Homo sapiens: one gene and its partner. The protein of the gene in region 1 purifies or fractionates together with the protein of each later gene. This does not show direct contact. Each region holds a gene or a part of one and is shown in the gene's direction. Other genes may lie near its edges.

Region 1 (3,649 bases):
TGGAACACTTAACTTTCTTGATCACGTGTATCTCCTTGTGGATGTGCTAGGAAAAGTGTAATCACATAGCAGAACAGAATCTTCCAGAACTTTAATTTTTGAACCAATCCTAGTGGGGTTCTGTCCAGTGCCGGGATTTGGACCAGTCCTGGTGGGATTCTGTCCAGTGCCGGGATTTGACCCAGTCCTGGTGGGGTTCTGTCCAGTGCCGGGATTTGGACCAGTCCTGGTGGGGTTCTGTCCAGTGCCGGGATTTGGACCAGTCCTGGTGGGGTTCTGTCCAGTGCCGGGATTTGGCCCAGTCCTGGTGGGGTTCTGTCCAGTGCCGGGATTTGGCCCAGTCCTGGTGGGGTTCTGTCCAGTGCCGGGATTTGACCCAGTCCTGGTGGGGTTCTGTCCAGTGCCGGGATTTGGCCCAGTCCTGGTGGGGTTCTGTCCAGTGCCGGGATTTGACTCAGTCCTGGTGGGGTTCTGTCCAGTGCCGGGATTTGGCCCAGTCCTGGTGGGGTTCTGTCCAGTGCCGGGATTTGGCCCAGTCCTGGTGGGGTTCTGTCCAGCGCCGGGATTTGGCCCAGTCCTGGTGGGGTTCTGTCCAGCGCCGGGATTTGGCCCAGTCCTGGTGGGGTTCTGTCCAGTGTCGGGATTTGACCCAGTCCTGGTGGGGTGCTGTCCAGTGCCGGGATTTAGACCAGTCCTGGTGGGGTTCTGTCCAGTGCTGGGATTTGACCCAGTCCTGGTGGGGTTCTGTCCAGTGTCGGGATTTGACCCAGTCCTGGTGGGGTGCTGTCCAGTGCCGGGATTTAGACCAGTCCTGGTGGGGTTCTGTCCAGTGCTGGGATTTGACCCAGTCCTGGTGGGGTTCTGTCCAGTGCCGGGATTTGGCCCAGTCCTGGTGGGGTTCTGTCCAGCGCCGGGATTTGGCCCAGTCCTGGTGGGGTTCTGTCCAGCGCCGGGATTTGGCCCAGTCCTGGTGGGGTTCTGTCCAGCGCCGGGATTTGGCCCAGTCCTGGTGGGGTTCTGTCCAGTGCCGGGATTTGACCCAGTCCTGGTGGGGTTCTGTCCAGTGCCGGGATTTGGCCCAGTCCTGGTGGGGTTCTGTCCAGTGCCGGGATTTGACCCAAGTCCTGGTGGGGTTCTGTCCAGTGCCGGGATTTGACCCAGTCCTGGTGGGGTTCTGTCCAGTGCCGGGATTTGGCCCAGTCCTGGTGGGGTTCTGTCCAGTGCCGGGATTTGACCCAGTCCTGGTGGGGTTCTGTCCAGTGCCGGGATTTGGCCCAGTCCTGGTGGGGTTCTGTCCAGCGCCGGGATTTGGCCCAGTCCTGGTGGGGTTCTGTCCAGCGCCGGGATTTGGCCCAGTCCTGGTGGGGTTCTGTCCAGTGCCGGGATTTGACCCAGTCCTGGTGGGGTTCTGTCCAGTGCCGGGATTTGGCCCAGTCCTGGTGGGGTTCTGTCCAGTGCCGGGATTTAGACCAGTCCTGGTGGGGTTCTGTCCAGTGCCGGGATTTGACCCAGTCCTGGTGGGGTTCTATCCAGTGCCGGGATTTGGCCCAGTCCTGGTGGGGTTCTGTCCAGTGCCGGGATTTGACCCAGTCCTGGTGGGGTTCTGTCCAGTGCCGGGATTTAGACCAGTCCTGGTGGGGTTCTGTCCAGTGCCGGGATTTGGCCCAGTCCTGGTGGGGTTCTGTCCAGTGCCGGGATTTGACCCAGTCCTGGTGGGGTTCTGTCCAGTGCTGGATTTGACCCAGTCCTGGTGGGGTTCTGTCCAGCGCCGGGATTTGGCCCAGTCCTGGTGGGGTTCTGTCCAGCGCCGGGATTTGGCCCAGTCCTGGTGGGGTTCTGTCCAGCGCCGGGATTTGGCCCAGTCCTGGTGGGGTTCTGTCCAGTGCCGGGATTTGACCCAGTCCTGGTGGGGTTCTGTCCAGTGCCGGGATTTGGCCCAGTCCTGGTGGGGTTCTGTCCAGTGCCGGGATTTAGACCAGTCCTGGTGGGGTTCTGTCCAGTGCCGGGATTTGACCCAGTCCTGGTGGGGTTCTGTCCAGTGCCGGGATTTGGCCCAGTCCTGGTGGGGTTCTATCCAGTGCCGGGATTTGACCCAGTCCTGGTGGGGTTCTGTCCAGCGCCGGGATTTGGCCCAGTCCTGGTGGGGTTCTGTCCAGCGCCGGGATTTGGACCAGTCCTGGTGGGGTTCTGTCCAGCGCCGGGATTTGGACCAGTCCTGGTGGGGTTCTGTCCAGCGCCGGGATTTGGACCAGTCCTGGTGGGGTTCTGTCCAGTGCCGGGATTTGGACCAGTTCTGGTGGGGTTCTGTCCAGTGCCGGGATTTGGACCAGTCCTGGTGGGGTTCTGTCCAGTGCCGGGATTTGGCCCAGTCCTGGTGGGGTTCTGTCCAGTGCCGGGATTTAGACCAGTCCTGGTGGGGTTCTGTCCAGTGCTGGATTTGACCCAGTCCTGGTGGGGTGCTGTCCAGTGCCGGGATTTAGACCAGTCCTGGTGGGGTTCTGTCCAGTGCCGGGATTTGGCCCAGTCCTGGTGGGGTTCTGTCCAGTGCCGGGATTTAGACCAGTCCTGGTGGGGTTCTGTCCAGTGCTGGATTTGACCCAGTCCTGGTGGGGTTCTGTCCAGTGCCGGGATTTGGCCCAGTCCTGGTGGGGTTCTGTCCAGCGCCGGGATTTGGCCCAGTCCTGGTGGGGTTCTGTCCAGCGCCGGGATTTGGCCCAGTCCTGGTGGGGTTCTGTCCAGTGCTGGGATTTGACCCAGTCCTAGTGGGGTTCTGTCCAGTGCCGGGATTTGGCCCAGTCCTGGTGGGGTTCTGTCCAGTGCCGGGATTTAGACCAGTCCTGGTGGGGTTCTGTCCAGCGCCGGGATTTGGCCCAGTCCTGGTGGGGTTCTGTCCAGCGCCGGGATTTGGACCAGTCCTGGTGGGGTTCTGTCCAGTGTCGGGATTTGACCCAGTCCTGGTGGGGTGCTGTCCAGTGCCGGGATTTAGACCAGTCCTGGTGGGGTTCTGTCCAGTGCTGGGATTTGACCCAGTCCTGGTGGGGTTCTGTCCAGTGTCGGGATTTGACCCAGTCCTGGTGGGGTGCTGTCCAGTGCCGGGATTTAGACCAGTCCTGGTGGGGTTCTGTCCAGTGCTGGGATTTGACCCAGTCCTGGTGGGGTTCTGTCCAGTGCCGGGATTTGGCCCAGTCCTGGTGGGGTTCTGTCCAGCGCCGGGATTTGGCCCAGTCCTGGTGGGGTTCTGTCCAGCGCCGGGATTTGGCCCAGTCCTGGTGGGGTTCTGTCCAGTGCCGGGATTTGACCCAGTCCTGGTGGGGTTCTGTCCAGTGCCGGGATTTGGCCCAGTCCTGGTGGGGTTCTGTCCAGTGCCGGGATTTAGACCAGTCCTGGTGGGGTTCTGTCCAGTGCCGGGATTTGACCCAGTCCTGGTGGGGTTCTATCCAGTGCCGGGATTTGGCCCAGTCCTGGTGGGGTTCTATCCAGTGCCGGGATTTGACCCAGTCCTGGTGGGGTTCTGTCCAGCGCCGGGATTTGGCCCAGTCCTGGTGGGGTTCTGTCCAGCGCCGGGATTTGGACCAGTCCTGGTGGGGTTCTGTCCAGTGCCGGGATTTGGACCAGTTCTGGTGGGGTTCTGTCCAGTGCCGGGATTTGG
Region 2 (3,649 bases), on another chromosome or scaffold:
GTCATGTTACTTGTTTTTTCTCTTTTGACGGAAATATGTAATACATTTATCCAGTTTTAAAATCAAAGTATGTGCTTAGAATGTAAAGACAAGGAATGCTAAAAGTACATTTATCACTTAATGGCAGGGATAAGTTATGGTAAGTGCAATGTTAAGTGATTTTGTTGTGCGAACATCATAAAGTATACTTATACAAACCTAGATGGTCTAGCCTTCTCCACACCTACGCTACAAAGCTGTACAGTATGTTACTGTACTAAACACTGTAGGGAATTGTAACACAGTGGTAAGTATTTGTGTATCTAAACATCGAAAAAGTAAAAACAGAGTATAAAAGATTTTTAGCCCAGGCACAGTGGCTCACGCCTGTAATCCCAGCACTTTGGGAGGCCAAGGTGGGTGGATCACTTGAGGTTAGGAGTTTGTGACCAGCCTGGCCAACATGTTAAAACCCGGTCTCTACTGAAAATACAAAAATTGGCTGAGCGCAGTGGCTCACACCTATAATCCCAGCACTTTAGGAGGCCAAGGCAGGCAGATCACCTGAGGTCAGGAGTTCGAGATCAGCCTGACCAACGTGGAGAAACCCCGTCTTTACTAAAAATACAAAATTAGCCAGGCCTGGTGGCAGGTGCCTATAATCCCAGCTACTCAGGAGGCTGAGGCAGGAGAATTGCTTGAACTCAGGCAGCAGAGGTTGCGGTGAGCCAAAATCGCACCATTGTCATGCCATCGCACTCCAGCCTGAGCAACAAGAGTGAAACTCATCTCAAAAAAAAAAAAAAAAAAAAAAAAAGTACACCTGTATGGAACACTTAACCATGACTGGAGCTTGCAGGACCGGAAGTTGCTCTGGATGAGTCAGTGAGTGAGTGGTGAGTGAATGTGAAAGCCTAGGACACTACTCTACCATAGACTGTAGAAACACTGTACACTTAGGCTACACTAAATTTATCTTTAAAATTTTTGTTTCTTCAATAATAAATCAGCCAGGCATGGTGGCTCATGGCTTAATCCCAGCACTTCGGGAGTCCAAGGTGGGCGGATTACTTGAGGCCAGGAGTCTCAGACTGGTTTGGCCAACATAGTGAAACACTGTCTCTACAAAATAAAAAAATTAGCCAGGCGTGGTGGTGCATGCCTGTAATTCCAGTTACTCAGGAGGCTGAGGCACAAGAATTGCTTGAACCTGTAGGCAGAGGTTGTGGTGAGCCAAGATTGCACCACTGCACTCCAGCCTGGGTGACAGAGTGAGACTCTGTCTCAGAAAAAAAAAATAAATAAATAAATACAAATAATAAATTAGCTTACTGTAACTTTTTTACTTTATGAACTTTTTGATTTTTTTAACTTTTTGACTGTTGTAATAACATAACTCAAAAGACAAACATGTTGCACAGCTATACAAAAACATTTTTTATCCCCCTATTCTATAGGGGTTTTTCTAGTTAAAAAAATTTTTATTTTATACTTTTTAAGCTTTTTTTGTTAAAAATTCATACACCCTCCAAGCTAGGCAACAGAGCAAAACTCCATCTCAAAAAAGAAAAAAAAAGGCCAGGCGCAGTGGCCCACGCCTCTAATCCTGGCACTTTGGGAGGCGAAGGTGGGCAAATCACTTGAGGTCAGGAGTTCAAGACCAGCCTGGCCAACATGGCGAAACGCCGTCTGTACTAAAAATACAAAAATTAGTTGGTTGTGGTGGTGTACACCTGTAATCGCAGCTACTCAGGAGGCTGAGACACAAGAACGCTTGAACCCGGGAGGTGGAGGTTGCAGCAAACCAAGATGGCTCCTCTGCACTCCAGCCTGGGCGACAGAGCAACACTCATCTCAAAAAAAAAAAAAAAAGAATTGGTCGAGGCACATTCCTTAACCAGTGTGTTTATTGGTGATGACATTTAAGGAATATTAGACATGGAGCTTAAGGATGCATCCTCTCTTCCGTGCATCCTGGAGGACAGCCAGCAGGTATGTGCTAGAGAAAGCTGTGTAAACTGGTGCACCGTGGCCAGGCGTGGTGGCTCACGCCTGTAATTCCAGCACTTTGGGAAGCCGAGGCAGGAGGATCACAAGGTCAGGAGATTGAGACCATCCTGGCTAACGGTGAAACCCCGTCTCTCCTAAAAATACAAAAAATTAGCCAGGCATGGTGGCGGGTGCCTGTAGTCCCAGCTACTCAGGAGGCTGAGGCAGGAGAATGGCGTGAACCCGGGAGGCGGAGCTTGCAGTGAGCCGAGATTGCGCCACTGCACTCCAGCCTGGGCAACAGAGGGAGATGCTGTCTCAAAAAAAAAAAAAAAAAACACCGGTGCACCGTGATGTTTAACTCCACTACTGTTGATGTTCTTGTAAGGTTTCTCCACACTCTACAAGCAGAAGTCACAGGGCGACCTTAGGAAACTGGAGAGGATATTCATGGTCTTAAGCACTAGATTATAGAGTTTAGGTTGCCAGAGTAACAGTTTCAAAGATCCTGGCACACACAGTTGCTCTTTAGTAAATAGTTCTTAAATAAATTGAGACATGTACATTTATTCTCAATTTCCTCTTTCTTATTTGTTTTCCAGAGTGTTTCCTTACTCTCAGAAGTTTAAAAAATTAAGTACTTGGGGCTGGGCGCAGTGACTCACGCCTGTAATCCCAGCACTTTGGGAGGCTGAGGTGGCCAGATCATAAGGTCAAGAGATCGAGATCATCCTGGCCAACATGGTGAAACCCCGTCTCTACTAAAAATACAAAAACTAGCTGAGCGTGGTGGCAGGCACCTGTAGTCCCAGCTATTTGGGAGGCTGAGGCAGCAGAATCACTTGAACCCAGGAGGGGAGGTTGCAGTGAGCCGAGATCGCGCCATGCACACCAGCCTGGGTGATAGAGCGAGACTCCATCTCCAAAAAAAAAAAAAGTACTTGGGTACAGTGGCTCACACCTGTAATCCTAGCATTTGGGGAGACCAAGGTGGGAGGATCACTTGAGCCTGGGAGGTCAAGGCTGCAGTGAGACATGTTTGAGCACTGCATTCCAACCTGGGTGACAGAGAGCCTATCTTATTGTTGTATAAAGGTTTGAAATAGGTACAAGGTTTGGTCATTCAGTTTCAAATTCATTTCTCAAATATCCTTGTATCTCACTAACATCATCTGTCTACCAGTAACATTTCCAAATCTAATAGTACTTGGCAAGAGATGGGGAGGGGGTTAAATTGCACAATTTAAAATTTTCATAATTGTTATGCATCACAGTTATTGTGATCACGTGATAATGTTATGCATGTCTTTTGTTGTGTGTCAGCCCCAACTTTTGTCTCAGCATTTGAACCATGCATACATCTTATCAAAAAAAAAAAAAAAAAACAGTATTTATTGTGGCCAAGTGAGGGAGAAAAGTAGAGGGACAAAAACTGGCAAAAACTTAGCCAGAGGTGGCCGGACACAGTGGCTAACACTTGTAATCCCAGAGCTTTGGGAGGCCGAGGCGGGCAGATCACCTGAGGTCAGGAGTTCGAGACCAGCCTGACCAACATGGAGAAACCCCGCCTCTACTAAAAATACAAAATTAGCTGGGCGTGGTGGCTCATGCCTGTAATCCCAGCTACTCTGGAGGCTGAGGCAGGAGAATCACTTGAACCCGGGAGCCGAAAGTTGCGATG

Evidence for each region. Proteins that work in one complex are often made in the same cells at the same time.
Region 2: the proteins of CEP72 (region 1) and ZKSCAN1 purify together in Homo sapiens (affinity purification with mass spectrometry; 2 studies listed by BioGRID and IntAct, with this or other methods). This does not show direct contact.

The regions. Positions count from the first base shown.
Region 1 is NC_000005.10:629,282-632,930, forward strand, and holds part of CEP72 (centrosomal protein of 72 kDa), read left to right. Parts: intron 1-3,649. UniProt on the Homo sapiens protein: Involved in the recruitment of key centrosomal proteins to the centrosome.
Region 2 is NC_000007.14:100,025,460-100,029,108, forward strand, and holds part of ZKSCAN1 (zinc finger protein with KRAB and SCAN domains 1), read left to right. Parts: intron 1-3,649. UniProt on the Homo sapiens protein: May be involved in transcriptional regulation.